Linked DNA regions of Homo sapiens: regions 1, 2, 3, 4, 6 and 7 are each reported to be linked to region 5. Evidence: microRNA targets listed by miRTarBase, many of them from high-throughput screens and not tested one by one. Region 5 holds a microRNA gene; each other region holds the end of a gene's coding sequence. Distances are between the middles of the regions.

Region 1 (4,076 bases), not on the chromosome of region 5:
GCCACCACACCCGACTAGTTTTGTATTTTTAGTAGAGACAGGGTTTCTCCATGTTAGTCAGGCTGGTCTCAAACTCCCGACCTCAGGTGATCCACCTGCCTCGGCCTCCCAAGGTGCTGGGATTACAGCCATGAGCCACCATGCCCGGCCGACCTCACCTTTTTATGGCACATCCTGTGAACCAGCATTATCCCATTCAATCCGCACAGTAACTTGGTGAGGTGGCTGCTGTTCCAATCCCCATTTTACAGATGAGGAAACTAAGGTCCAGAGGTAGAGGCCTTCTCCAGGGCCTCTGCTTCCTGAGTCAATCTGTGATGGAGATGCCCCCAGAGAAGCCTCCAGGGGCTGGAATTGTACCCTAAGACTGGACACAGAAGGAGGCTCATGAGATTTTTCTTTCTGCTCTTTCAGAAATGGCTGAGCGACACAACACCAAGCAAGTCCTGAAGCTGGCGCGGGACCTCGTGTACAAGGTGCAGACTCTGATTGAGAACAAGTGAGGGGCACCTCACCCCGGCAGCCTCAGCCAAGCTGCCCCTGCCCCGCTCCTCTGCTTACTTTTCCTCCTGGCTGGATGGGCACCCCGGGAGCGGGGTCCTGGTGTCTGTTCACAAGCGTGGAGTTCAGTGCGCAAAGAAACTACCCTGACTTTTACTTCTGGGCAGATGGGGTGGAGGGAGTACCCCTTCAATTCAGCCTTACATTTTCCTGTTTGACCAAAGATTGCCCAAGTCTGGCGTTCCTCCCTTGCAGGAGGTGGAGGTTGTTGGTGGAGGAGGAGCCATCTTTGTTTGCTGGTGCCCGGAATGGTCTCCTCTTCTTCTTTCCCTATCCCTCCAAACTGTCTTGTAAGATGAGACCTGGGGAGGAAACTTCTTTTTGGAAATTGGTGTAGAAGAGGTGTGTGGGGCTACCTCTATGCTCCTCTGCAAGGGGCCTTTGGCGATGTTCTGGACATGGCTGAAGATTGACTTAGAGATTGACCCTCCACCTCGACATTACTGACATTTGGGGCCAGGTGATTCTTTTTGAGGGGACTGTCCCCTGCATTGTAGGATGCTGAGCAGCATCCCGGGCCTCACCAGATGCCAGTAGTGCCATCCCCCAACCATACCCCTGGTTGTGACAGCCCCCAAAAATGTCTCTAGACATTGCGAAATGTTCCCTGCAGGGCAAAATTGCCCCCATTTGAGAACCACTGGCTTGGAGAAGGGACTACAAATGTACTTCCTCCCCCATTCTTTTGACGCTAAGCCACCCTGGTCCTGACGCCTCCCCTCACTTAGAAAAGGCATACAGGAGGCCGGGCATGGTGGCTCACACCTGTAATCCCAGCACTTTGGGAGGCTAAGGTGGGCGGATCACAAGGTCAGGAGTTTTGAGACCAGCCTGGCCAACATGGTGAAACCCCATCTCTACTAAAAATACAAAAATTAGCTGGGTGTGGTGGCGGGTGCCTGTAATCCCAGCTACTTGGGAGGCTGAGGCAGGAGAATCACTTGAACCTGGGAGGTGGAGGTTGCAGTGAGTTGAGATCACGCCACTGCACTCCAGCCCGGGCGACAGTTCAAGACTCCATCTCAAAAAAAAAAAGAAAAGGCACACAAGAGTCCCTCACACATCTCTCTTGGAGTCTGGGATTCCATCTGTTGTATTTTCTCCTTTTTTCTCCTCTGTCTGATGCCAGAAGATACTTGTTTTCTTCTTTTCAAGAAAAGTATCTCCCCACATAGGCGGTGGACCCAAAAAGTGTAGGCATGAGACGGTCAGAGCTCTTTGGGGTCCTGCTCAGAGTCCCCCAGGCAGGGCAGAGTCTGTATCCTGCTGCCATCTTGCAAGGGAAAACCGCCTCTCCTTCCAAGTATTGGGTCTTGGAAAGGTGTGTGTTTGGTGAAAGCCACTTAATGGTGGTGGGGTGCAGCTTTTCTCTAAGTGCAGTTACTCACTCAGGACAAAGGAGGAAAAGGAAGGCAGAGGTCAGCCAGGGTAGAGGGTGATGTCTGTTTTCCTTGGGAAACATCTGCTGATGAACTGGGTCCAGGGCCGTGCTAGGTCTGGGAACAATCCTCTCCAGGTCTTCACACAGAGTATCACCAATCCACAAACAGACCCGAAGTGAACTAGTTTACTCTGCCTACCTGTCCTTTCAATAGAGCAGTCTTTCCCGCTCTTCTGTTCTGAGAATGCACCCGGAATGGGGGAAACCCAGCAAGCAGCAGAGAGAAAGGCTCTTCCCGGGAGACCTGCCGCCTCTAGGGTGGTCAGAGAATAGCAGCTGGGATTTTGGAGAGGGAGAGGATAGGTAAAGCAGCGTATTGAAGCATTTGCGGAGGGGTGTATTAGTCCTCCCACCCTGAGCACACCAGGACGGGGATGCATCCTTGCCTTGTGTGCTTGTAAAGGCTTCTTTCCCTTGGTATAGCAACTTCAACTGCACCTGAACCTCCAACCTCTGCCCAGCCTCTGGTGCAGGGTGGATAGAGGTCTAGCCAGCCCTTACTTCCTGAAGAGAGCTCTGTGGGAAACTCGAGGCTACAGTAGCTTCCCGGCTCCCAGCTCCTACCCTACCCCCACCAAAGCAGAAACGGGAGACGGCAACGTTCTGGCTGCCATTAGACTTACGTCTCCCTCCCCTACGTCCCCTAGCTTCCCAAGACAGGAAGAAATGTGCAAAAGGCCCCTCCGGAGAAAACTATTTTGCCGTTCAGCTGTTCTTTACAGAGGATGTTATTTTAGTGAGACCCAGGTCCTAGACCTTCTGATTCCTATTTATTTTTTTAACAGACTAGTCTCAAAGTACAGCACAAAATCTCTTCTCTGCCTTCTCTTGTGATGTTCCAGAGAGCATCTGTGGTTGTGATTTGGAATAAGTCATATTTATTTGGTTTACTGTGCCTATTCAGATCTCTGTATGTTGTGTGTGTTTCTGTGTCCTGGAATTGGATGCGTGGGACTCGTTCTGTCCGCGGAGTGCACTCTTTTTTTCAGTGTGGCCCACATATCTTGTAAATGTTTGCTGAAGAGTTGTGTCTATATATAGAGAAAATATATATAAACAGAGAAATATGTGAATCTGTTTTTTTTTGTCTTTTTTTTTTTAATTTGAAAGAAAAAAATGCTTGCTTCTGAGGACTGTGTCCTCCCACTCACACCCCAGTGACCCTATATGGGGTCAGATTTTTGTAATAGCTGCCTGGCCTTTTCCCAGAAAAGGTGAATCACTTCTGACTTCTTGTATTAGCTGGCTCTTACCACAAGTAATGCTGCATTACAAATGACCCAAAAAGTAGTGGTTTAAAACAGCCATGTATTTACCTCATAATTCTGTGGGTCAGCATCCCAGGCTAGGTTCAGCTAGGAGGTTCTTCTGTTCTCAGACTTCTTCATGTGTCTGTGGTCAGCTGATGTCCAGATAGGCAACTCTGCTTCTGATGGTTGTCTGGCTGTTGACTAGGGCAGTGGGGGAAACTGGATTCCGTATCTTGCATCCTCCAGCAGGCTAGCTTAGGCTTGTTTACATGGCTATGATAGCAGATCCCAGAAGGTAAGCAGAAACACACACTGTCTCTTGGTCTCAGCTTCTCTGGCATAAAGTCATTTCTGCCACATTCTGTTGGTCAGAGTAAGTCACATGACTCAGCCCAGCTTCATAGGGTAGGGAAATAGACTGTACTTCCTGATGAGAATCTTTGGAAAGTGACACTGAAAAGGAGCATGGGCCAGGCACAGTGGCTTACCCCTGTAATCCCAGCACTTTGGGAGGCCAAAGCAGGAGGATCACTTGAGGCCAAGAGTTCAAGATCAGCCTGGGCAACATAATGAGACTCCGTCTCTCCAACAAAAACAAACAAACAAACAAAAAAAAAATTAAAATTAGCTGGATGTGGTAGCGTGTGTCTGTGGTCCCAGCTACTCAGGAGGCTGAAGTGGGAGGATTGCTTGAGCCCAGGAGATAGAGGCTGCAGTGAGACATGGTCATGCCACTGTGCCTCAGCCTGGGTGACAATGCAAAATCCTGTCTCAAAAAAAGAAAAGGAGCATGGACCCAGGCTGGGAGATAATTGAGGCCATTT
Region 2 (4,075 bases), not on the chromosome of region 5:
TCAGGATCTGAGACTGTGGCCTAATCCCTGCTATCTCATCCTCTACTGAGGGACTCCAGGAAAGTCACTTCTCATTCATGCCAAGCACCTGCCTACTGTCTGAGATTGCCCCAGCATTCCTTACCCAGCCTTCCCCAGGCCTCAGCTTCCACTTCCAAAGCCCAAAAATCTGCCTGTAGCTCTGGCAGAGTTAGCATCCCTTCTGGAACAATTATTCAGGGAGGAAGAAGAAAACGAACTTTCAGACTTTACCCCAGTTTCTGGATGGGATTAGGCTTGTTTTCATGGTCTCAGCTTCTCTAAAAATCACCTCTATACTACTTTCCTTTCTCTGGAACAGACTTTGAGATGAAAACTCACAGCCCCAGAGGCGTCCAGAACCCCTTACTAGCCAGACACCCTAACTCTATCCTGCTTAGTGCCTACACCCCAGTACCCTGACATCCCCAGAAATAAACCTGCCCAGCAGTGAGTGTTTGGCATGATGCCCTGTGGTTTAAGCTACGTCAGCCCTCAGGTATGGAAAACACACAAGCAGAAGCATGTTCCCACCAAGCCCATGGACCAAGACAGATGCCATCCACTACGTGGCATATCAGGACCAGCTGGGACCTGAGGAAGGCACTGCTCCCCACACCCACACTGGCTCCACACTGGTGTCAACGTTCAAAATCACTCAGCAACCTGTCCCCACCCCTCAAGGCTCCTCACTAGCAGTGGGCTCAGAGTAATAAAAATCCAGCCCTGGTCACCAGGCACATAGACACCCAGACCACCAGAGGTTCCTACCATTGCCTTTCCTCCCTGTCAAGGGAATGCAAATCTTGGGCTTTGGAAGGGCTGAATGAAGTTCATGAATGGAAAAGAATCCAGGTGGTAGAAGATGAATTGGGAAAGGGCAAAGGAGTAAAGGTAGAGGGGATATTGACAAGGGGGTCTCCATGAGTGAGTCTGTGGGATATGGGTGAGAAGAGTGAGTCTGGGGAGAGACCCTGAGAAAGCACCAAAATCCCATAACTCTGGGGTTGGGAGAAGAGTCCAGTGACTTCTGATGTCCATACCAGGAAATCCCACTCTGTGGCCACCCAGATTCTGAAAACACCCTATTGTCCTACAACTCTCTACCATGACCACACCTTTGGTCCCAAGGACCGCAGTTCATAATCCTGATCAGAGTCTTACCTTCCCATCATTAAGTACACACACACACACACACACACACACCAGTAAAAACATAACTTCCCATGTACCACTAACAAGACAAAGAAGGATCTCCAAGAGACAGGCAGGCTTTCCAGTCTGTTTCTGGTGGGGGTATTCCCTCATTTCCCTCACTCCTTCATCCAAAAAACAAAGCAAAACCAAAAGCCCCTTCCCCCTTTTTAAAATAAAATAAAAAGACACTCTGCAACTTCTTCACACTGGATCCTCAAAGCCTGATTCCCTCCAACACTGTCCATCTGTCTTGGGTGTCTACAGGAAGCTGAAGTGGCCCAGATGGGGCAGGATAGAGATGCTGCCATTTGTGCTGGGAAAGAGAGATACTCAGGCTTCTGGAGAAGCCATGAGTTTTCTGTGGTGAAAAAATGGCAAGGGCCTGAGGGCTTCATGGATGGAAAAGAGAGGTCAAAGGAAGGCAGGCAAGGAGGGCTGGCCTCTGGCCACAAGGGGACCTCACTCTGTTGTCCAGGCTGAAGGATTGGAAGAAGACTCAGTGCAAACCTGACTAACATATATATGGCTTTTATATCAGTGCTGGGGACAAAAGGTGAACAGGGAATGGGATACAACTGAGCATGGGTAGAAACCCTAGAAGGTCACCTCTGCTACTCATTTGGAATGGATGCCCTTTGTTTCTTAGCATTCATAGAGAGAAGCCCCCTAATGGTAGGACGGGTCCTTCCCATAGGTCTCCCTGGGCCACTCCAGCTACCTATCAGCTCTCCAGCATGGAGGGCAGAGGGCCAAGGGAGCAAGGAGTGGGAGTCGGGGGAATTCCAGTGCTCCCCTATATCTCCTCCCAAGGGATCTCAGCCATCTGTCCCCCATCCTCTTCTTACCACCCCCTTCTTACCTGGACCTCAGGAGAACTAAGAACATTTAAACTTTCCTTTTAAAGTTCTCTGGCTCTGCACAGATAACGTGTCTTCAGACAGTGTTGCTCCACTTAAAAGAGAAACAGAAGCAAAAGCACAATGGGGAATAAATGCAAATGAACTTGGCTGCTTATATTCTGGAAAGGGAGAAAGCATCTGTGTTTCCCACTGGATGGGGTGAAGATCCAGGAGTTTAATTTTGGTCTTTCTGGTAATGGGACTTCTGTTTCTTCATAGTTTGATATTTATTGTCAATAAGAGTGAGATTTTGGGACTGAGAGTCCCTGTTAGTCTGACCCAACTAGTGAATAGCTCATATCCATGAATGTCCCAGGAACTACACTTCTGGGGAAACCATGACTGGCAGGAGGAAGTATTTGATGGCATCGTTTGGTCCTAGTTCTGAACACATCCAGTCTTCACATCTTGCTGCCTCCCAAATAGCCACCAACAGGAGTATGAAAGCCCCGATATCTGAACAGGATCCTGAGACTTTGCCATAGATGAGAGAAGATCTCCCACTTAGTGGACTTCTTCATGTCAGGGTCCCCAAAGAGCCTTCTTTTCCCACACAACTTTACTGTCCATGGCTCATTCCAGGAATGAAGAGAGATGCTCAAAGAGACACACACACACACACATTCCAGGAATGAAGAGAAATGCTCAAAGACACACACACACACACACACACACACACACACACACACATACACACACACACACACACACACACACACGATCATTGGCCACTGTGATGCCTTCCCTGTCAGGAAGCAGGATGTGCTGCCATTTTGTTGGTCCAGAAGGCTCAAAAAACAGGAACTGCTGCAAGTTTGTGCCAGTAGAGAGCCTCGCTTGGGGTGAGGCAGATGTGAAGCTTTGAAAGAGTCGAGGGAACTGTGACAGGGCATGCAGCAAGGACAGCTCCTGGGACCGTGAACAGAGCCAGGCTTCTCTTTCACCTCTTAGGGGACTCTCCTCACACAGCCATCAAAGGGAAGTTGGTCTTTAAAAAGAGAAAAACAAGGAAAAACAAGGACACAACCACCCAACAAATGAAAGAAAAAAGAAAACCTCTAAGGTTGCATAACTGAGGTATTGATAGCTCTGGATCTTGTCAGTGTCCGTGAAAGGTGTGGGGTCCCAGCCGCTGCTGTCTACTTGTTCTTGCCCAGGAGTGCATCCACCTCCTCCTCAGGCTTGAGCGAGTGCCACTGGGCGATGGGCCTCCGGGGGTTGGCCAGCATGTCGGACCAGTGCCGCAGCTCTGTGCCCGTGGCATTGCTGCCCACGAAGATCTTGCCTATGGCTTCGTTCTTGCCCAGCTTGTCATAGTCCAGCACGGTGACCACTACCTGGACTTTCTGCAAGGAAAACGAGGGAGGGAGTTGGCAGACAGAGACGTGGGATCCCATGACCAAATTTATCCTCCATCAACCTCTACTCCCAATGATTGGGAAGGTAAGGCCTCCTGGGGCTCCTTGGTTTCATCTCTGCTCCAGTGAAGACTGAATTGACATGGAGGCAGAGGCCACGCCTTTGGCAGCCTTTGTTTCTACCACTGGGCATTTATTGAGGATGTACTGTGCTCTAGACCCTGTTAAGCACTTGGAGGGGGAGAAGAGGGAAGGAAAAGTGAAAAGATGAATTTCACTTCCTCAATGAGATCAGCAGACATGTAACTGAAAACTTACAACATGAATTGATAAAGGTTATGCTAGAGAGATGGGCACAAGGTACTGTGGAAACTTAGAGGAGGTGACAGTCCTGGGGCCAATCAGAAAAGGCTTCACAGAAGAGGTGACTGGGACATGAAGTCTGAGAATTTCTCTAGGAGGAGAAAAGAAGGAAGAGGATTCCAGGAAAACAGATTTGCTTGGGTAGAGGCATAGAGACCTGAGAGTGCATTTGGCATCTGAGAAACATTAGATGTTCAGTCATTGAGGTATAGGGTGAGAAGCAGTGAGGCAGGAAATGAG
Region 3 (4,076 bases), not on the chromosome of region 5:
ATATTATTGAAACATAATATGAGAAAATAACATCAATATTAACATAGTATATATTTATATTAATTCTGTATGGCTTTCATTATTTCATCCTTACATCAAGCATTGGCTTATTCAGCTTTATTTATATTAATGATTTACATTTTTATTCTTTATGATTTTGAAAAAATTCTTGGTAATAAATTGTAAGCATCTACTATTAATACTAGTCTTTTTTTTCCTCCAGTGAAGCATAACTTTAACCTGGAAGAATACAGCCTTTCTCAGTGCACACTGGAGAAGGTAAGTCAAGTGGTTTGACTTTGTATCATCTGGTAAATTTCACATGAAAGCAACATGCATTTTCCTGTTCATTTGGAAGACCAACAACTTGATAATCTCTCTTCCTTCTTTCCTTCTTCTTTGTCTCCTAATTAGGTATTCTTAGAGCTTTCTAAAGAACAGGAAGTAGGAAATTTTGATGAAGAAATTGATACAACAATGAGATGGAAACTCCTCCCTCATTCAGATGAACCTTAAAACCTCAAACCTAGTAATTTTTTGTTGATCTCCTATAAACTCATGTTTTATGTAATAATTAATAGTATGTTTAATTTTAAAGATCATTTAAAATTAACATCAGGTATATTTTGTAAATTTAGTTAACAAATACATAAATTTTAAAATTATTCTTCCTCTCAAACATAGGGGTGATAGCAAACCTGTGATAAAGGCAATACAAAATATTAGTAAAGTCACCCAAAGAGTCAGGCACTGGGTATTGTGGAAATAAAACTATATAAACTTAGAATTTTTTAAAAATATGACTTTTTTACCTTTTACAAAACATTCTCTTGCTGAAATATGTGAAGGGTATATTCAGTAGCCAAGAGTTGCATGACTACTTCACACCAGTTCATGATACAACAGGTATACAGGTTTTCTTTTATAACCAACTACAACTCAAGAGTCTTCTGAAAGTGTTCCAGAAATTGCTTTAAAACTCAAAAGTAAGGGGCCAGGTGCAGTGGCTCACGCCTGTAATCCCAGCACTTTGGGAGGCCGAGGCAGGTGGATCACAAGGTCAGGAGTTCGAGACTAGCCTGGCCAATATGGTGAAACTCCATCTCTAATAAAAATACAAAAATTAGCCGGGCGTTGGCATTTGCCTGTAGTCCTAGCTATTCGGGAGGCTGAGGGAGGAGAATTGCTTGAACCCGGGAGGCAGAGGTTGCAGTGAGCCATGTGCTAGTGCACTCCAGCCTGGGTGACAGAGTGAGACTCTGTCAAAAAAAAAAAAAACAACAAAAACAAAACCAAAAAACCTCACAAGTATTAGGAGGTCCTTGGACACACAAGTAGACAAGCACTCATGTTGAAAAGTAGTTCCATTATACCTTTTGAAAATAAAGGGAGTCACAGTAGTATTTGTTCAGATTTTTTAAATTTTGCATACTCTTAACAACATTAACTTATTGTTTTCAGGGGGTGCTAATTTTCCTTGTCATCTTTGAATAGTTTTATGGGATTTGATATTTTTTAAAATCATTTCTCCCTTATATAAGTGTATGTGCATGTAGGTGTATCTATATATTTTCCACATATCTTTTATATTATTTAATTTTTAAAATACCTGTCAGTTTAACATATTACTTTATTCTTTCCCTTAAAAATAGCTATTTCATTCTGAATATCACCAAAAAAAAAAATTCAAAGACCAAGCAGTATTCCTTCTGTGATTTTTTGGTGTTCACATATTGTACATAATAAGGGGTTCAATTCAACAAGAGGAGTTAACTATCCTAAATATATATGCACCCAACATTGGAGCACCCAGATTCTTAAAACAATGATTTCTAGATGTATGAAAAGACTTAGAGAGCCAAACAATGGTAGTAGGAAACTTCAACACCCCATTGACAGTGTTAAATTGACCACTGAGGTAGAAAACTAACAAGAAATTTTGGACTTCAATTTGACACTTGACCAATTGGACCTAACAGGCATCTATAGAACACTTCACTGATCAGCACAGAATATACATTCTTCTCATCTGCACACAGAACATACTCCAAGATTGGCCACATGCTCAGACATAAAGCAAGTCTCAATACATTTTAAAAAGTTGAAATCATACCAACCATACTCTCAGACCACAGAAGAATAAAAATAGCAATACCAAGAAGATCTCCCCAAATCATGGAATTACATGGAAATTTAAAAACTTTCTCCTGAATGACTTTTGGGTATGATGAAATTAAGGCAGAAATTAAAAAAAATTTTTTGAAATAAATGAAAACAGAGATACAACATACCAAAATCTCTGGAATACAGCAAAAGCAGTGGTAAGAGGGAAGTTTATAGCACTAAATACCTACTTCGAAAAGTTAGAAAGATGTAAAATTAACACTCTAACATAACACCTGGTGGAACTAGAAGAACAAGAACAAAATCCCAAAACTAGCAGAAGAAAAGAAATAACTAAAATCAGTGCAGAACTAACAAAATTGAGGCCCAAAAATCCACATGAAGAATAAGTGAAACCAAAAATTGGTTTTTTGAACAGATAAACAAGATCGATAGACAACTAGCTAGACTAAAAAAGAAAAAAAAGAGAGAAAATCCAAATAAGCACAATCAGAAATGACAAAGGCGACATTACAACTGATCCCACAGAAATACAAAAGATCCTCTGAGACTATTATGAACACCTCTATGCACACAAACTAGAAAATCTAGAAGAAATGGATAAATTCCTGGAAACACGCAATCTCCCAAGATCCAACCAGGAAGAAATTGAAACCCTAGCAGACCAATACCAAGTTCCAGAATTGAACCAGTAATGAAAAATCTACCAACCAAGAAAAGACCCAGACCAGATGGATTCACAACTGAATTCTATCAGACTTACAAAAAAGAGCTGAGCAATTTTACTGAAACTATTCTAAAAATTCACAGATGAGGGACTACTCCGTAACTCATTTTATGAAGCCAGCATCACCCTAATACCAGAACCTGGCAAAGACACAACAAAGAAAACTACAGAACAATATCCCTGGTGAATATAGATACAAATATCCTCAGCAAAATGTAAGCAAACTGAATTTAACAGCACATCAGAATTTAGTTTACCATGATCAACTTGCCTTAACTCCTGGGATACAAGGTTGGTTCAACATACACAAATCAATAAATGTGATTTACCACATAAAGAGAATTAAAAATAAAACCATATGAGTATATCACTAGATGTGGGAAAAGCCTATGATTAAATCCAACATCCCTTCATGATAAAAACCCTCAACAAAATAGGCATTGAAGGAACTTACCTAAAAATAATAGGAAACATCAATGACAAACCCATAGCCAACATTATACTGAATGGGCAAAAGATGGAACCATTCCCCTTGAAAACTGCAACAAGACAAGGATGCTCACTTTCACCACTCCTATTCAACATAGTACTGAATTTCTTGCCAGAGCAATGATGCAAGAAAAGGAAATAGAAAGTATCCAAATAGATGGCCACACAAAAAATAAATTCCTAGGAATACATCTAACTTATCTAACCAAGGAGGTGAAAGATCTCTGTAAGAAGAATTACAAAACACTGCTGAAAGAAATCATAGATGACACAGAAAAATATGACATGCTTATGGATTGAAATAATATAGTTAAAATGGCCATACTCCCCAAAGCAATCTACAGATTTGACACTATTTCTACCAAACTATTAATGTCATTTTTCATGGAATTAGAAAAAATATTTTAAAATTTATATTAAAAAGCCTGAATGGCCGAAACAACCATAAGCAAAAAGAACAAAGCTGGAGGCATCACATTACTTGACTTCAAACTATACTATAAGGCTACAGTAACCAAAACAGCATGATACTTGTACAAAAAAGGCATATAGACCAATGGAACAGAATAGAGAACACAGAAATAAAGCCACACACCAATAGCCATCTGTTCTTTGACAAACAGACAAAATAAGCAATCGGGAAAGGACTCCGTATTTAATAAATGGTCCTAGGATAGTTAGCTAGCAATATGCAGAATAATCAAAGTGGACCCCCACCTTTCACCATATACAAAAT
Region 4 (4,076 bases), not on the chromosome of region 5:
AGTAAAACAACATATTCAACTTTAATTCCTGTCTTATTGTTAATGGGAAGTTAGTTATGGTTCTACTTAAATGTTGTAGAGAAAATAAGTATTACTAGTTTCTTCTCATAAAAATACTCCCTGGATACGTACACTGAACAACACAAAAAACGTAATGGCCACTTAAGAATATTTATTTATTTATTTATTTTTTTGAGACAGAGTCTCACTCTGTTGCCCAGGCTGGAGTGCAGTGGCACGATCTCAGCTCACCACATCCTCCGCCTCCCAGGTTCAAGCGATTCTCCTGCCTCAGCCTCCCAAGTAGCTGGGATTACAGGTGCCCGCCACCACGCATGGCTAATTTTTGTATTTTTAGTAGAGGCGAGGTTTCACCATGTTGGCCAGGCTGGTCTTGAACTCCTGACCTCAGGTGATCCACCCATCTTGGCCTCCCAAAGTGCTGGGATTATAGGTGTGAGCCACCACGCCCAGCCAAGAATATTTACTAAAGGAAGCTTTGACCCCTGCATCACATTTTTTTCATATTTCCCTTTCTGTAATCTCAGCACTTTGGGAGGCTGAGGTGGGTAGGTCAAGAGGTCAGGAGTTCGAGACCAGCCTGACCAACATGGCAAAACCCCGTCTCTACTAAAAATACAAAAATTAGCCGGGCGTGGTGGTGCGTGACTGTAATCCCAGCTACTTAGGAGGCTGAGGCAGGAGAATCGCTTGAACCTGGGAGGCAGAGGTTGCAGTGAGCTGAGATAGTGCCACTGCACTCCAGTCTGGAAAACAGAGTGAGACTCTGTCTCAAAAAAAAAGGTATTGATGAATAAAAATTATAACTAGAATAAGTACTCTAACAATTCAGATTTATAATTGAGTTGTCTGAAAGCTACCTTTTTCATTGTGAAAGTGCATATTAATGTGAAGAAAATATTCCTATTTGAGAACTTCAAATATGCATACACAAAGATGTTCCAGCTATTTTTATCTTCTTAAGTATGCATTCTACATGAGAACGTTTGGGTTGGTAGTAAAATAAATAGTAATATCAAAATAGTTTATTATGTTTAAATTTCATTCTTTTGGAATACATAATTTTGAGTGATCATGTCTCCAACTACAGTTATTCAGGCACAAATTTTGGAGGTACAAAGAATAAATAATATTCTTAAGGTAGTTTTTCCTTTTATCAGGGTTCTTCTAGAGTACTGGTCTCATTATTTTCTAAAGCAGTTTTTCTAAGGTGATAAACCGAACACATTACTTGCTATGTATTAAATGACTTGTACCACTAAATAATCAAATTCTAAGCTCTAACAGCTTAATTCTAAAATCATTGTCTGGTATATTTGTGTTTTCAATTACTTTGTGTCTTTCACAGCTGCCAAACCCAGAAAGGTATGTTATGGTTATAGTTTATCTTCTATTTTTCCCTCTTGAACTACTCCCAAAGGAGGAAGAAGGATGCTCATTATATACTGCCTCATTTCTTTTTAAATTACCACTATAGTGCCGTAGAGTTATACCACTGCTTCTCATACTTATGTGCACATTAGTCACCTTGGGATCTAGCTAAAATACAGATTCATTCAGTAGGTTTGGGGAGAGGCCTGAGAGTCTGAATTTTTAATAAGCTGCCAGGTGGTGGTGACAATGATTTGTGGACTACCCTGTGAATAGTAACTCGGCCTTAAGAGAACATTAACCAAAACCTTAAGCTGAGCAAACTACTGAGCAGCAAGTATTGACAACATTTCAAGGTTTTGTTTTTTGTTTTGTTTTGTTTTGAGATGGAGTCTCACTCGGGCTGGAGTGCAGTGGTGTGATCTCGGCTCACTGCAACCTCCGCCTCCCGGGTTCGAGTGATTCTCCTGCCTCAGCTTCCCAAGTAGCTGGGACTACAGGTGTGTGCCACCACGCCCAGCTAGTTTTTTGTATTTTTCAATAGAGATGGGGTTTCACCGTGTTAGCCAGGATGGTCTTGATCTCCTGACCTTATGATCCTCCCGCCTTGGCCTCTCAAAGTGCTAGGATTACAGGCATGAGACACCGCGCCCGGTCCATTTCAAGTTCTAAAAAAAGTTCAACGTATTTCTTTAAAAATCATGCAAAACAGCCCTCTTGTATAAACTAGAGTGGGGAAAAAAGAACTTGAAATTGCACTTTTATTTTAAAACAGTGAAGTGTGGCTATTACATATTTCACTTTTACAATCAATACATGTTAGGATCTTACAAGTATTAAATTGATGATTTTATTATATATAAATACACAAATGGTCCAAAACAATATCTAAAATGTTGCAATATTTATAAAATCCATAAAAATATTTAATTTTCAGTATGAAAATGGCATACTAATTTGAGTTTGAGGTAAATGAAGAGACAGATTTAGGCCATCTAAGAAGGAAGATAAAGGAGAATGTCATATCTATATTTTGGGAAAAGTCAAAGAATGCTAAAGAGCTTGACCTGTTACTGCATTAATGACTTCAGACATTATGCAGATACATATACTATATAGTAATAAATAATACACAATGTAGACAGAACAGAAAGCAGAGGGACTGGACCAATCTGCTCAAGGAAAAGGTAAAGAATTTTTTAAAGTGCAGCAATCAGGGATTCTTGTGACTAATGTGTTTCACTGAAGACAATTTGAATCGTTCATAAACATTAACCCTTTAATCCTTGAAACTTTCCTTTGAGGTAGAGAATTGGGCCAGACTACTGCTGAAAAGCAAGAGGAATGGCAAGGCTAAAGTAGCTCTTGAGAGCTCAAAAGAATCATGGAATTCTTTTTTTTTTTTTTTTTTTTTTTGAGACAGAGTCTCACCCTGTTGCCCAGGGTGGAATGAACTGGCACAATCTCAGCTCATAGCAACCTCCACTTGCTGAGTTCAAGCGATTCTCATGCCTCAGCCTCCTGAGTAGCTAGGATTACAGGCATGCGCCACCAGGTCCAGCTAATTTTTTTTTGTATTTTTAGTAGAGACAGGGTTTCACCATGTTGGCCAGGCTGGTCTCCAACTCCTGGCCTCAAGTGATCCTCCTGCATCACCCTCCCAAAGTGGTGGGATTACAGGCATGAGCCACCATGCCTGGCCAAGATTCATGGAATTTTTGAACTCCTTGTCTTAACTACTCTGCCAGCTCTTGTTGAACAAAGACCAATCCGCTCTTCATGATTTGCTCCTCATGTCTTCTTATAATTCTAATGTGTCTACATCCTTGGATACCATATAATAGGAAAATTCTTTTAAACAACTAAAACAGACATAATCACAATTCCAACTTAATGTAATCCAATACAACTTCATACAAATAGCAGTTAAATCACACGTAGTAAAATTTCGTACAACATTTTTTTAAAGTTTCAAATTCAAATGTTCCAAATGTTTAATTATTTTGTCTTAAGGTACATTTGCAAAGAATTCTAACTGCTGCTATTACCTTTGTCCTTGCTGAAGGAAAACATTAGGAGAATGAGCTGTTTTTAAGCTAAACGTGTCTCCACTTGATGAATGGCGTGAAGGAGCTTTTCCACCCAAGAGTGATGTTTCTGCTTCTTTTATTTCCATTGCCCTTTTGTATAATTCAGCAGCTTTTTCAAAATCTCCTCCTTCATAGCTTTGAGAGAGAAAACAAAAACTCTTAAAATGAGAATATAACCTCTTACCAATTCAAAATGACCTTATGGGATACAGAAAAAGAAGCTGTAAATATTTGCCCATTTCCCCTCTTTTTCCAGTGTATTCACTCAAGCAGACCAGTAAAACAACACCCAAACTCTTCTCCTTTCTACCAGTATCAGTATTTTTGTGTCTCATATGGATATCATTAAAACCATGTTGTAATAGAGGCAGTGAAATTGCTAAGCAAAGTTAGGTATTCTCTGCATCCTGAGAAAAATACAAATGAGCAAGCAAAAGTCAACATATACTTAATGGCAACTTCACTCTGGGGACAGCAAATTACCCATATTACTCCCAGAGCCAGATGTAGTATAAACCATCCTTCACTGTTTGCCATGATGCATACATATGCTCCTCTGCAAAATAGATCATGCAGGCTTCATTTCATTTCTGG
Region 5 (4,000 bases):
ATGGAGGATGAGTGAGTGGGTGTGTGATGTGTAGATGGTCGAGTTACAGATGGAGCATCTGTGGATGGATGAATAACTCATGGGGGAAAGAGTGGCTGGGAGCGGGTTGGATCTGTGGATAGGTGAGTGAGACGGTGGATGGCCCTGAATTCATGGAGGGCTGGACAGACGCCTCCGCGAGGGAGAGCAGGGTGAACCTGGCCCACCTTGTCCCCACAGCTGCCCATAGTGGCTTCTTCCATCGTATCCTTGTACTTCCTGGAGCTGACCGACCTCTTCAAGCCGGCCAAGGTGGGCTTCCAGTGCTATGACCGCACTCTCTCCATGCCCTACGTGGAGACCAACGAGGAGCTCATCCCGCTGCTGATGCTGCTCAGCTTGGCCTTCGCGGCCCCTGCCGCCTCGGTGAGCACCTGCACCGGGGCCTGTGCCAGCCTGTGGGCACCACGGCTGGGAGCCCACCCCCGCCACCTCGGTGAACATCCACACTGGGGCCTGTCGGTGAACATCCACACCGGGGCCTGTGCCAGCCTGTGGGCACCGCAGCCACTGCCACCTCGGTGAACATCCACACCGGGGCCTGTGCCAGCCTGTGGGCACCACGGCTGGGAGCCCACCCCCGCCACCTCGGTGAACATCCACACCGGGGCCTGTGCCAGCCTGTGGGCACTGCAGATGGGAGCCCGCCTGAGCGCCCCCTCCCTGTGGGCACCGAGGCCTGAGCGCCCCCTCCCTGTTGGCAGATCATGGTGGCCGAGGGCATGTTGTACTGTCTGCAGTCCCGGCTGTGGGGCCGTGCCGGGGGGCCCGCCGGGGCGGAGGGCAGCATCAACGCCGGCGGCTGCAACTTCAACTCCTTCCTGCGGCGTACGGTGCGGTTTGTGGGTGAGTTGCGGGACGCGCCCCGACCCTGAGCTACCTCCACATGCAGGGGGTGGGGCTGTCCCGGGTCCCCAGCTCCCCGCCTGGCCGAGCCTTCCGCCCTGCAGGTGTCCACGTGTTCGGCCTGTGTGCCACAGCCCTGGTGACGGACGTGATCCAGCTGGCCACGGGTTACCACACTCCCTTCTTCCTCACCGTCTGCAAGCCCAACTACACTCTCCTGGGCACGTCCTGCGAGGTCAACCCCTACATCACGCAGGACATCTGCTCCGGCCACGACATCCACGCCATCCTGTCTGCACGGTGAGCCGGACCCCCAACTCCCCTGACTGGGAGCCTTCTTCCGCCCCGGTGAACATGCGGGGAAACAGAGACACAGAGAGGCCACTGGAGCTGGGGTCCCCAGGTGGGCGGGGCTCACGCTGGACGCCTCTTACAGGAAGACCTTCCCGTCCCAGCACGCCACGCTGTCAGCCTTCGCCGCGGTCTATGTGTCGGTGAGTCCGGCCCCTCACTGCCCTTCCCAGGCCCTCTTGCTGACCCGTGGGGAGCCCTCCCTGACCCCAACCCCCATGCCCCAGATGTACTTCAACTCGGTCATCTCGGACACCACCAAGCTGCTGAAGCCCATCCTGGTCTTCGCCTTTGCCATCGCCGCGGGCGTATGCGGGCTCACGCAGATCACGCAGTACCGCAGCCACCCTGTGGACGTGTATGCCGGCTTCCTCATCGGGGCGGGCATCGCTGCCTACCTGGTGAGTGGCAGGTTCTGATGGGGGTCGGCATGGGTTCCCAGGGGATCTGAGGGGGGAGGCATGAGTGCCCACAGGGCCTGAGTGGGGAGGCTGGCCCAGGGGTCTGAGGTGGGAGGCAGGCTCAGGGGGTCTGACAGGGGAGGCTGGTAGCCTGAGGGGTGAGGCATGGTTCCCAGGGGTTCTGGCGGGGGGCTGGCCCAGAGGGTCTGAGGGGGGAGGCATGGGTGCCCAGGGGCTCTAGGGGGGAGGCACGGGTGCCCAGGGTGTCTGAGGGGATAGACGTGGGTCCCGAAGGGGTCTTAGGGGGAAGGCATGGGTGCTGAAGTGTCTCGCCCTTGGAATGCTGGAGTCAGAATCCCGTGGGCTCAGACCTGCCCGATGTGCTGGGTCAGCAACCTTGGGGTGGGAACCGGTCCCACTGGACAAGAGCTTGCCAGCCCCCACCCCCGGTCCAGAGCCCCCCGCGGCAAGTCCAACGATCACAGGGGAGGAGCCCTCTGAGCCCCAGGCCTCACCCCCAGACCCCTCTCCCCGACAGGCCTGCCACGCGGTGGGCAACTTCCAGGCCCCACCTGCAGAGAAGCCCGCGGCCCCGGCCCCCGCCAAGGACGCGCTGCGGGCCCTGACGCAGCGGGGCCACGACTCGGTTTATCAGCAGAATAAGTCGGTGAGCACCGACGAGCTGGGGCCCCCAGGGCGGCTGGAGGGCGCGCCCCGGCCCGTGGCCCGCGAGAAGACCTCGCTGGGCAGCCTGAAGCGCGCCAGCGTGGACGTGGACCTGCTGGCCCCGCGCAGCCCCATGGCCAAGGAGAACATGGTGACCTTCAGCCACACGCTGCCCAGGGCCAGCGCGCCCTCGCTGGACGACCCCGCGCGCCGCCACATGACCATCCACGTGCCGCTGGACGCCTCGCGCTCCAAGCAGCTCATCAGCGAGTGGAAGCAGAAGAGCCTGGAGGGCCGCGGCCTGGGGCTGCCCGACGACGCCAGCCCCGGGCACCTGCGCGCGCCCGCCGAACCCATGGCGGAGGAGGAGGAAGAGGAGGAGGACGAAGAGGAAGAGGAGGAGGAGGAAGAGGAGGAGGACGAGGGCCCGGCCCCGCCCTCGCTCTACCCCACCGTGCAGGCGCGGCCGGGGCTGGGGCCTCGGGTCATCCTCCCACCGCGCGCGGGGCCGCCGCCGCTGGTGCACATCCCGGAGGAGGGCGCGCAGACGGGGGCCGGCCTGTCCCCCAAAAGCGGCGCCGGGGTGCGCGCCAAGTGGCTCATGATGGCCGAGAAGAGCGGGGCGGCAGTGGCCAACCCTCCGCGGCTGCTGCAGGTCATCGCCATGTCCAAGGCTCCGGGCGCGCCGGGCCCCAAGGCGGCCGAGACGGCGTCGTCGTCCAGCGCCAGCTCCGACTCCTCGCAGTACCGGTCGCCGTCGGACCGCGACTCCGCCAGCATCGTGACCATCGACGCGCACGCGCCGCACCACCCCGTGGTGCACCTGTCGGCCGGCGGCGCGCCCTGGGAGTGGAAGGCGGCGGGCGGCGGGGCCAAGGCGGAGGCCGACGGCGGCTACGAGCTGGGGGACCTGGCGCGCGGCTTCCGCGGCGGGGCCAAGCCCCCGGGCGTGTCCCCCGGCTCGTCGGTCAGCGACGTGGACCAGGAGGAGCCGCGGTTCGGGGCCGTGGCCACCGTCAACCTGGCCACGGGCGAGGGGCTGCCCCCGCTGGGCGCGGCCGATGGGGCGCTGGGCCCGGGCAGCCGGGAGTCCACGCTGCGGCGCCACGCGGGCGGCCTGGGGCTGGCGGAGCGCGAGGCGGAGGCGGAGGCCGAGGGCTACTTCCGCAAGATGCAGGCGCGCCGCTTCCCCGACTAGCGCGGCGGGGCCGGGGGCGGGCGGGGGGCGGGCCGAGGGCGCGGGCGGCCGCGCGGATGCTCAATAAAGCGGCAGAAACCGAGGTCCGGCTCTTGGTCATTCGCTCTGGCCCGCACGCCCCACGCAGGGACCCCCACTCTCAGGGCCGGGCCCACCCCGCCCGTGGCCCCACCTGGCGCTTCGGCGGACACCCGGGCGGGAGTCGGGGCCGCCCGCGGCACAGAAAGAGGAAGCCAGCAACGAAGGCGGAACGGAGCGAGGATACAGAAGATTTATTCGAAGTCCAGGTACAGACTGGCCAACCTGCCTCTACAGCGTCCACAGCGAACACAGGGCTAGACAAGGGAGGAGTTTCTCAAACGGTTTTAATCGGTTCTCTCCGCGTCACAAGCCATCGGGTAAGGCAACGGAATGTGCGTGGGGTCCCCTGTGGCTCCGCGGTCACAATACTGAGCCTGGAATTGCTGTTAGCAAAATATACATTTGTGTCACCATAAAA
Region 6 (4,076 bases), 55 Mb from region 5:
TAACCTAAATTAAATTAACCCATCCCGAGACTGGTGACGAGAAACAAGAGAGTCAAGCAAATGATGATGACACCAGCAGACACTCGCACTGCTCTTATCCCATGCCAGGCACTGTTTTAAGTGCTTTACATGTATTAACTCAGTTAATCCTTGAAACAACCCCATGATTCATAGCCACCTCACAGGGTGGAAACTGAGACACAGAGGTTCAGCCCCTTGCCCAGGGACACACACCTTACTCCTGGAGCAGCCTGGTTCCAGAGCCAGCTCTGATCACCCATCTATGCGGCTCCAAGAAGCCACAGAGGGAGATTTTCAAAGCCCCGCCATGATGTAAGCCCAGGGGAGATAGGGATGACGGAGAGAGGCTGGCCTCTGCTTCCACCTCAGGCCAGAAAGCCAGGCACCTGAAGACAGATGTAGCTAGTTAAAAAGTAACTCTCTGGAGTCCCAAAACAGCCCCAGCCTAATACATTAAGATGAAGAGATGATGTAACAAATGCAGAGAAGGGGACTGAGAAGAAATAGAAGACAGTTCTGACAGAAAGAGACACATAGAAACCTGGGCAGAGGGAGCTAGGCAGAGACACAATGAGAAAAACACAGGCAGCAGCAGATACAAGAACATGGGAAGACAGGGAGGCAGGAGGCCAAGGAAGAAAGAGGCCCAGAAACAAAAAGAGACCTGGCGCTGAGAAATAAGAGATAAGAAAAATGGAATCTAATGGCAAAGAATATAAAATGTGGGTTCAAATCCTGGCCACATCAGCTACCTGCAGCGCACACCTCCTTGAGACACAGTTTGCTCAACTCTGAAATGAAAGAATTCCTACCTGGTAGGCCTGTTGATTAAATAAGATGGGTACATGCAGTGCTTGGCTCTGTGCCCCACAGATAGTAGGCGCTCAATAACACTGGCTGCTATTATTATCAGAGAAAAAACAGAGAACATTTCCAAAAGGGTGGCGGCAGAAAAGGCACTATCTTAATACTCTGTACTTATTTGGCGTGCATTAGAAAAAATTACCCAACTAGCACATCAAAGCTGAGATTTCTCAGATACTGCTTAGAATGAGACTGTATTTCAAATTAAATTGATTCAAAGAGAATTCTTACATTAAAAAGAATACAAAGGATATGGCAAAGTTCTCCAAGGAGTACTCCAATAACCGACCGATATCTAACACTTACTGTGTAAAAATCTCTAAGCACTGTAATAATAAAAACCAGAGCTCCCAGTAATTACACACTTGCTATGTGTCAGATACCGTCAGGCACTTTACAAGCATCACCTCAACTTACATGCACAAGGACCCTATGATGTAGGAACTACGAATGCCTACGAACTATGGATTTCCTACGACTAGGAAACTGAGGTTTTGACACAGAGACTATCACCTGGCAATTACACAGCTTAGCAGGCAGCCGGGCTTCTGAATCCAAGGCTGGGGCTCTTCACCATCACACCAGAGACTCAGAAAACTGGGGAAAAGGGGCAGATTCTAGATCAAGTTAACAGACTCCTGGAAAGAAACTTCAGGATTGGAGGTGATAGGTATGGGGGCAAAACTCAGATGCGAAGACGGGGCGGGGGTAAGATTTGCACCATAGGCAGAAAAGCCCGCAGGGAAGGGCTAGAGACACCTAGGGAAAAGAAGACTCGGAAACTCAACGAGACACGAACAAATCCTGACAGACACAGACACGACAGACAGAGGAGAGAGAGACCCGGGACAGACACACAAACACACTCCTATCTCCAAACCCTTTTCTAAGTTCACTGAAACAGGCACAGGCAGAGGCCCACAGGAAACAGACGCTGACAGACACACAGACACGAGAGAGACAGACACAGACAACCGACACGGGGGCAGTCAAGGCCGACACAGGAGCAGAGACACAAAGGCCGCCAGAGACACCCAGAACTGGCCAGACGCGAGCCCGCGCGCGCCGCGGCCCAGGCCCGAACACCCGGAGCAGGCGGGCCAGCGTCCCCCGCGCTCCGCCCCGCGCTCACCTCGGCCCCCTCACGCCGGGCTCTGGGGGGTCATGGCGGTCAGCCCCCTGCCCCGCTCGGCCTCGGTGTCGCGGGACGTGCGCCGGGCCACGGGCGCACGCACGAACGCAAGGAGGGCCGCACGCCGACGGCTCCGCCGCCCCGCCGCCCAGAAGGGGCGCGGAGAGCCGGGCGGGGGAGGGGAGCCGCCGAGGAGACGGGAAGCAACAGAAGGAGGCGACGGACCGGAAGCGGAAATTGCCGCGCTCCCCGCCCTCCCGTGCCGCACCCCGCCCTGGCAGGAGTCGCTTCCGCAGCCAAGCCAACCTGGAAGGCATCACTTCCGGCGCGCTGGGCCCCGTTGCTAGGCGCCTCTACGTCACTTCCGCCCGCTGCAGCGGGGGATCCGCGCGGTGCTCACGGAACGCCGAGAGTCAGCTCCAGCTCGCTTGGCGGCAACCGCGGAGCTCCTGGCACACCCACGCCACGCCCGCCCCGGCCCGCTCGGCCACCATCCCTCCTGTCGGCGGGGTGGGAGAGCACTCGGGAACCTCACGTCCCCCGGGGCTGTGCCTGTGCCGACCCCGAGAAGGGCACCGCGCAAGCAGGGAAGGCCTCGAGGCTGCCGGCGCCGGCAGCAGGGGCGTCCCAGCCAGGGGCCCGCAGTTTGCCAAGGGAACCCCCACCCGAGCCCAGAACCGAGGAAGAGGGTCGGACATACTGGACACACAGCCGCTCCATAAAGTAAAATACAACAAAATGTTTAATGAGCAAATTCGTCTTAGCAAATATGAAACTGCCACAGAGAGTAGGAGAGGGGCAGGGGCCACGGGGCTGGGCGCAGGTCGGGGGAGACTAAAGAGGAAAAATCAACTACGTAAGAAACCCAGGAGGGGACCAGAGAGGACCAGAGGCCGAAGGAACAGAGCTGTGGTCCTGGTAAGGGAGAGGGCAGGGCACTGAGGGCCGGACAACAAAATTCAAAATAGTTTGGCCATAAAATATAAACACGCTATGTTCCTACCGTGGGGAAGGGGAGAAGAAAGGGGTCTATGGGAGAAGGAGAGGCTGTTTTGGGAGGGGCTGGGGTCCTACCCCGCCCTGCTGTGCACCCTGTCCCCATCCCAACCCCTTCCCTCTGTGTCTGTGTGGGTGCGTGTTGTCTGTGTGGGCTGTGTGCGCACTTCCCCAGTCCCCTCCCTGCCCTAACCCCCCAACCCCCCAACCCCCGCCCCCCACCCTTAATTGCTGCCATTCCAGTTGCTGCCGGCTGTCGTGTGTCTGCGGCTGTCACTCCTCTGCCCATCGTCTTCAGAGGGGGATAAGGGGGGGGCGGGAGTGGGGAGAAGCCCCCAGCCAGCCCTGCCCCCACCCTCCCCCAGCCGCCTCTACCAGAAGTCCCGGCGGTGATAAGAGTCGGGGTCACAGTATTTTGTGACAACCACTCTGTTGGCGAACTTGCGGCCCGTCAGGCCCTGCATGGCTTTCTGGCAGTCAAACACAGAGGTGAACTCCACAAAGATCTGTGGGGAAAGGAGAGGCAGGTTTGTGAACAAGGCTCACGCCCAACAGCCAGTCAGCGTCCACCCAACCCCAGCACTGAAGGCAGGAAGGGACAGGGAGGAGGGGGCTTCGCCACAGGTGTCAGAAAGGGACCCTTAGTAAGCAGGTTTGGTGGAGTTCACCCAAATATTCTCCAGGATCAAAAAACAAGAGCATAAACACACCATAGGCATGGAGAGGGAGAAAGAATAGAGACATGCCAGAAACTCAGCAGAGCCATAGAGCGCAGGCGGGAGGCCTAGACGAGCTCACCGCGGGGGAGGGGTCCCTCGTGCTGAGTGTCTACTCCACACGAGCCACCATGGTGGGCGCTCCCAGAACCACCCCAACAGCCATGTTCTCCCAACAATAAGTGAACTAAGGGAAGCTCAGAAATTAGGATTCAAACCCAGGTTGAATAAAATTTAAAAACTTGAACCTTGATCTATTCGAGCTTCTAACCTTGCTTAAACCAATTTACAGGAAAATGGAGGGAGGGAAGGATACAATGAGCCTACACGAACACTGAAAATTCTAT
Region 7 (4,076 bases), not on the chromosome of region 5:
TGTAATCCCAGCTACTAGAGAGGCTGAGGCAGGAGAATTGCTTGAACCTGGGAAGTGGAGGTTGCAGTGAGCCAAGACTGCACCATTGCACTCCAGCCTGGGCAACAGCGAGACTCCGTCAAAAAACAAAACAAAACAAAAAAAAACTTCATGTCCTTATATATTTGTGTAATTTAGAAAAGAACATAAACAACAAATATGGGAAAAGATGAACAATGGTTAATTCTGTGGAGTGGGAGCATGGTGGGTGATTATTTTGTTTATGCTTTTAGGTATGTTTCCAACCATCAAACCAAAAAAAAAAGAAAAAGAGAAACAGATCCTTGATCTTAACAGGAAATGGCTGTCATTATGAGTATTATTTCTATTCCCTGTTTTCATAGAAAATGTGGACACAGACTTGCCAGGCAGCCTGGGGCAGAGTGAAGAGAAGCCCGTGCCTGCTGCGCCTGTGCCCAGCCCGGTGGCCCCGGCCCCAGTGCCATCCAGAAGAAATCCCCCTGGCGGCAAGTCCAGCCTCGTCTTGGGTTAGCTCTGACTGTCCTGAACGCTGTCGTTCTGTCTGTTTCCTCCATGCTTGTGAACTGCACAACTTGAGCCTGACTGTACATCTCTTGGATTTGTTTCATTAAAAAGAAGCACTTTATGTACTGCTGTCTTTTTTTTTTTTCTTTTGAAGAACAGGTTTCTCTCTGTCCTTGACTCTTGGGTCTGTGGGCCATGGCATGAGTGTTTTCTAGTAGTAGATTGGAGGGAAAGCTTTGTGACACTTAGTACTGTGTTTTTAAGAAGAAATAATTTGGTTCCAGATGTGTTAGAGGATCTTTTGTACTGAGGTTTTTAACACTTTACTTGGGTTTACCAAGCCTCAACTGGACAGACCATAAACAGTCCACAGGCACCGTTCCTGCCAGGCCCCAACCCACAGGGAGTCTCTCCGCAGAGCCTTCTTGGTGTTGCCCTAACTTGCCAGTGGCCTTTGCTCAGAGCCTCCTCCTGTGACATGTGAACAATGAAGAGGCCTGCGCCTCCTGCCTTGCCGCCTGCAAAGCAAAGAAACTGCCTTTTATTTTTTAACCTTAAAAAGTAGCCAGATAGTAACAAGACTGGCTGGCTGATGAGCAAAGCCTTTGCTCTCACGCAGAGGAAGGCTTGGATGTACAATGAAACTGCCTGGAACTAAAAGCAGTGAAGCAAGGGAGGCAATCACACTGAAGCGGGTCTTCCTCCAGGAACGGGGTCCCACAGGCGTGTTGTTTTAAATAACCTGATGCTGTGTGCATGATGCTGGTGCTTGACCATGAAAGGAAAGTCTCATCCTTAAAATGTGTTGTACTTCACAATCCTGGACTGTTGCTTCAAGTAAACAATATCCACATTTTGAAACACTGTGTACTGTGTCTTCTTTTTGAGATGGTTTCAGTGTTCTCCCTGGTTAGATGCTTTTCTCTTTGTCACTATAAATCCTGCCTACTGATTGGAGGAGTCATTTGAAGTTAAATAGCCAGATGTGCCTGTAATTAGCTACTTGGGAAGCCAAGGCAAGAGGATGCTTGAGCCCAGGAGTTTGAGACTATCCTGGGCAACATAGCGAGACCTCCTTAAAAAACAAAATCTTAAAACAGATGAAGACCCAGAGAGGAGTGGGTTTCTTTCTGAAGAAGGCTCTAAAGATGAGCAGGTTAGACTCTTCTACCTCCCCTTTGTTCTGGGCAGTAACATTTTAAAGTGTTCTCCAAGACTGGGCAACATGGTGAAACCTCGTCTCTACCAAAAATAGCCAGGTGTGATGGCACACGCCTGTAGTCGGGAGGCTGAGGCAGGAGGATTGCTTCACCCTGTGAGATCAAGGCTGCAGTGAGCCATGATCGCACCACTGTACTCCAGCCTGGGTGACAGCAAGACCCTGTCTCAAAAAAAGTTCTCCAACTTTAAATATGCGGGGATTTCTCCCCACCAGCAAGCAAGCAAGCAAGCAATTCTGCAGTGGATACCAGCTAGGTGTCCTCCAATTTTTTTTTTTTTTTAAGACAGTGTCTCAGTCTGTCGCCCAGGCTGAAGTGCAGTGGCACAATCTGCTCACTGCAACCTCTGCCTTCTGGGTTCCAGCGATTCTCCTGCCTCACCCTCCCGAGTAGCTGGGACTACAGGCATGTGCCACCACACCCAGCTAATTTTTGTATTTTTAGTAGAGACAGGGTTTATGCCATGTTGCCCAGGCTGGTGTCGAACTCCTGACCTCAAGTAATCTGCCCACCTCGACTTCCCAAAGTGCTGGGATTATAGGCATGAGCCACCTCACCTGGCCCTCCAATTCAATTCTGACAATCAGTTACCTGGAGATAGCTTTGATTCCACAAGTTGAGGGCTCAGCCCCCAAGACTGCTTCCCCTTGAGATAACTCGCAAGTCTGGGCCTCCAAAATGTCTGCGTATCTATGAGTCATATGCATGTTGACTTGAGCCCCTCTTAGACTGGTTTGTCAGGCTTTTTTTTTTTCTGAGATGGAGTCTGGCTCTGTCACCCAGGCTGGACTGCAGTGGCATGATCTTGGCTCACTGCAACGTCTGTCTCCCGGGTTCAAGCAATTCTCCTGCCTTGGCCTCCTGAGTAGCTGGGATTTGTAGGCATGTCCCACCATGCCCGGCTAGTTTTTGTATTTTTAGTAGAGATGGGGTTTCACCATGTTGGTCAGGCTGGTCTCGAACTCCTGACTTTGTGATCCACCTGCCTCGGCCTCCCAAAATGCTGGGATTACAGGCGTGAGCCACTGCACCCGGCCCTGTCAGGTTTTTTTGTGTGTGTGATGCTTCTATTACATGTTTTGTTTGTTTGTTTGTTTGAGACGGAGTCTCGCTGTGGCCCAGGCTGGAGTGCAGTGGCGTGGTCTTGGCTCACTGTAATCTCTGCCTCCCGGGTTCATGCCATTCTCCTACCTCAGCCTCCTGAGTAGCTGGGACTACAGTCACCCGCCACCATGCCCAGCTAATTTTTTTTTTTTTTTTGTATTTTTAGTAGAGACAGGGTTTCACCGTGTTAGCCAGGATGGTCCTGATCTCCTGACCTCATGATCCGCCCGCCTCAGCCTCCCAAAGTGCTGGGATTACAGGCGTGAGCTACCGTGCCCAGCCTCTGTTACATATATTTGGAAGCAGTGGGTTCATCAGATGGGGAACAATGGCGAGATGGGCCACTTAAATCTGTGTTTATAATTTTGGCTCTCCCCTCCCCCAACAGGGACTCCCTCTGTCACCCAGGCTGGAGTGCAGTGGCAGGATGAAGGCTGTGTAGCCTCAATTTCCTGGGCTCAAGGGTTCCTCCCACCTAAGGCTCATGAGTAGCTAGGACCACAGGCATGCGCCACCATACCCAGCTTATTGATTTGTTTATTGTAGAGACAGGGTCTCCCTGTGTTGCTCAGGCTGGTCTTGAACTCCTGGGCTCAAGCTGTCTCCCACCTGGGCCTCCCAAAGTGCTGGGATTACCAGCCTGAGCCACGGCGCCTGGCTTTATAGTTTGTAGGCAAATAGATTTGAGTGGAGTCAGGAAGTTTCATGACATCCACAAAAAGAAGAGTCAACAAAATGTATCACAGTTCAGCATGTTCTTTTTTTTTTTTTTTTTTTTTGAGAAGGAGTTTTGTTCTTGCTGCCCAGGCTGGAGGGCAATGGCATGATCTCGGCTCACCGCAACCTCTGCCTCCTGGATTCAAGAGATTCTCCTGCCTCAGCCTCCCGGGTAGCTGGGATTACAAGCATGTGCCACCACGCTAATTTTGTATTTTTAGTAGCGACAGGATTTCTCCATGTTGGTCAGGCTGGTCTTGAACTCCCGACCTCAGATGATCCGCCCGCCACGGCCTCCCAAAGTGCTGGGATTATAGGCGTGAGCCACCGCACCTGGCCCTGTTCAGCATTTTCTAGACGGGAGTAGGTAAGCGATGTCAGTTCCACATAAAGTCCTGAGGACAGTCCTGATTACCTGTGCTTGATCAAAATCATCTTTCCGGGGGAAACCACACTTGAAGCTCCCATGTTTCAAGCCAACTCTAGTGTGAATTAGTCTCTTAACGAGCT

Evidence for each region. Region 5 holds the annotated microRNA hsa-miR-3187-3p (UUGGCCAUGGGGCUGCGCGG, at 2,425-2,444, opposite strand). A microRNA usually pairs through its seed, bases 2 to 8, with sites in the 3' UTR of a target mRNA and lowers its output. Matches are read on the target gene's strand: a 7mer-m8 pairs with bases 2 to 8, a 7mer-A1 pairs with bases 2 to 7 and ends in A, and an 8mer does both.
Region 1: miRTarBase lists SGSM1 as a target of hsa-miR-3187-3p. Seed matches in the 3' UTR shown: 7mer-A1 at 1,394-1,400.
Region 2: the mRNA of SYT2 is a reported target of hsa-miR-3187-3p. Seed matches in the 3' UTR shown: 7mer-A1 at 2,839-2,845.
Region 3: the mRNA of ABCA6 is a reported target of hsa-miR-3187-3p. The part of its 3' UTR that is shown has no 7-base or 8-base seed match.
Region 4: the mRNA of NPHP3 is a reported target of hsa-miR-3187-3p. Seed matches in the 3' UTR shown: 7mer-A1 at 2,998-3,004.
Region 6: miRTarBase lists U2AF2 as a target of hsa-miR-3187-3p. Seed matches in the 3' UTR shown: 8mer at 2,987-2,994.
Region 7: miRTarBase lists JPT1 as a target of hsa-miR-3187-3p. The part of its 3' UTR that is shown has no 7-base or 8-base seed match.

What each region holds. Positions count from the first base shown.
Region 1 is chr22:24,923,772-24,927,847 of GRCh38, forward strand. It overlaps SGSM1 (small G protein signaling modulator 1), which reads left to right. Exons shown (of 25, transcript NM_001098497.3): 25 at 415-3,807. The coding sequence ends at 503. Among named protein-coding and RNA genes, the nearest start is that of LHFPL7, 21 kb to the right of the region's middle.
Region 2 is chr1:202,593,504-202,597,578 of GRCh38, forward strand. SYT2 (synaptotagmin 2) reads right to left here. Exons shown (of 9, transcript NM_177402.5): 9 at 1-3,460. The coding sequence ends at 3,254. Among named protein-coding and RNA genes, the nearest start is that of SYT2, 110 kb to the right of the region's middle.
Region 3 is chr17:69,075,413-69,079,488 of GRCh38, reverse strand. ABCA6 (ATP binding cassette subfamily A member 6) reads left to right here. Exons shown (of 39, transcript NM_080284.3): 38 at 224-279; 39 at 415-787. The coding sequence ends at 516. It also overlaps a transcript of ABCA9 not described here. Among named protein-coding and RNA genes, the nearest start is that of ABCA9, 17 kb to the right of the region's middle.
Region 4 is chr3:132,678,474-132,682,549 of GRCh38, forward strand. It overlaps NPHP3 (nephrocystin 3), which reads right to left. Exons shown (of 27, transcript NM_153240.5): 27 at 2,136-3,617. The coding sequence ends at 3,437. It overlaps UBA5 (ubiquitin like modifier activating enzyme 5), which reads left to right. Exons shown (of 12, transcript NM_024818.6): 12 at 1-1,321. NPHP3-ACAD11 (NPHP3-ACAD11 readthrough (NMD candidate)) reads right to left here. Exons shown (of 45, transcript NR_037804.1): 26 at 3,441-3,617. Among named protein-coding and RNA genes, the nearest start is that of UBA5, 20 kb to the left of the region's middle.
Region 5 is chr19:812,071-816,070 of GRCh38, reverse strand. MIR3187 (microRNA 3187) reads right to left here and starts at 2,487; the gene lies at 2,418-2,487. PTBP1 (polypyrimidine tract binding protein 1) reads right to left here. Exons shown (of 15, transcript NM_002819.5): 15 at 3,759-4,000. PLPPR3 (phospholipid phosphatase related 3) reads left to right here. Exons shown (of 8, transcript NM_001270366.2): 3 at 220-405; 4 at 744-885; 5 at 990-1,185; 6 at 1,322-1,379; 7 at 1,464-1,637; 8 at 2,176-3,583. The coding sequence ends at 3,501.
Region 6 is chr19:55,673,377-55,677,452 of GRCh38, reverse strand. It overlaps U2AF2 (U2 small nuclear RNA auxiliary factor 2), which reads right to left. Exons shown (of 12, transcript NM_007279.3): 12 at 2,737-3,519. The coding sequence ends at 3,385. EPN1 (epsin 1) reads right to left here and starts at 2,227. Exons shown (of 11, transcript NM_001130072.2): 1 at 2,018-2,227. RefSeq lists silencers at 1,946-2,275, 2,446-2,665.
Region 7 is chr17:75,132,558-75,136,633 of GRCh38, reverse strand. JPT1 (Jupiter microtubule associated homolog 1) reads left to right here. Exons shown (of 5, transcript NM_016185.4): 5 at 384-1,386. The coding sequence ends at 532. It overlaps LOC107985034 (a long non-coding RNA gene), which reads right to left and starts at 384. Exons shown (of 2, transcript XR_007065907.1): 1 at 1-384.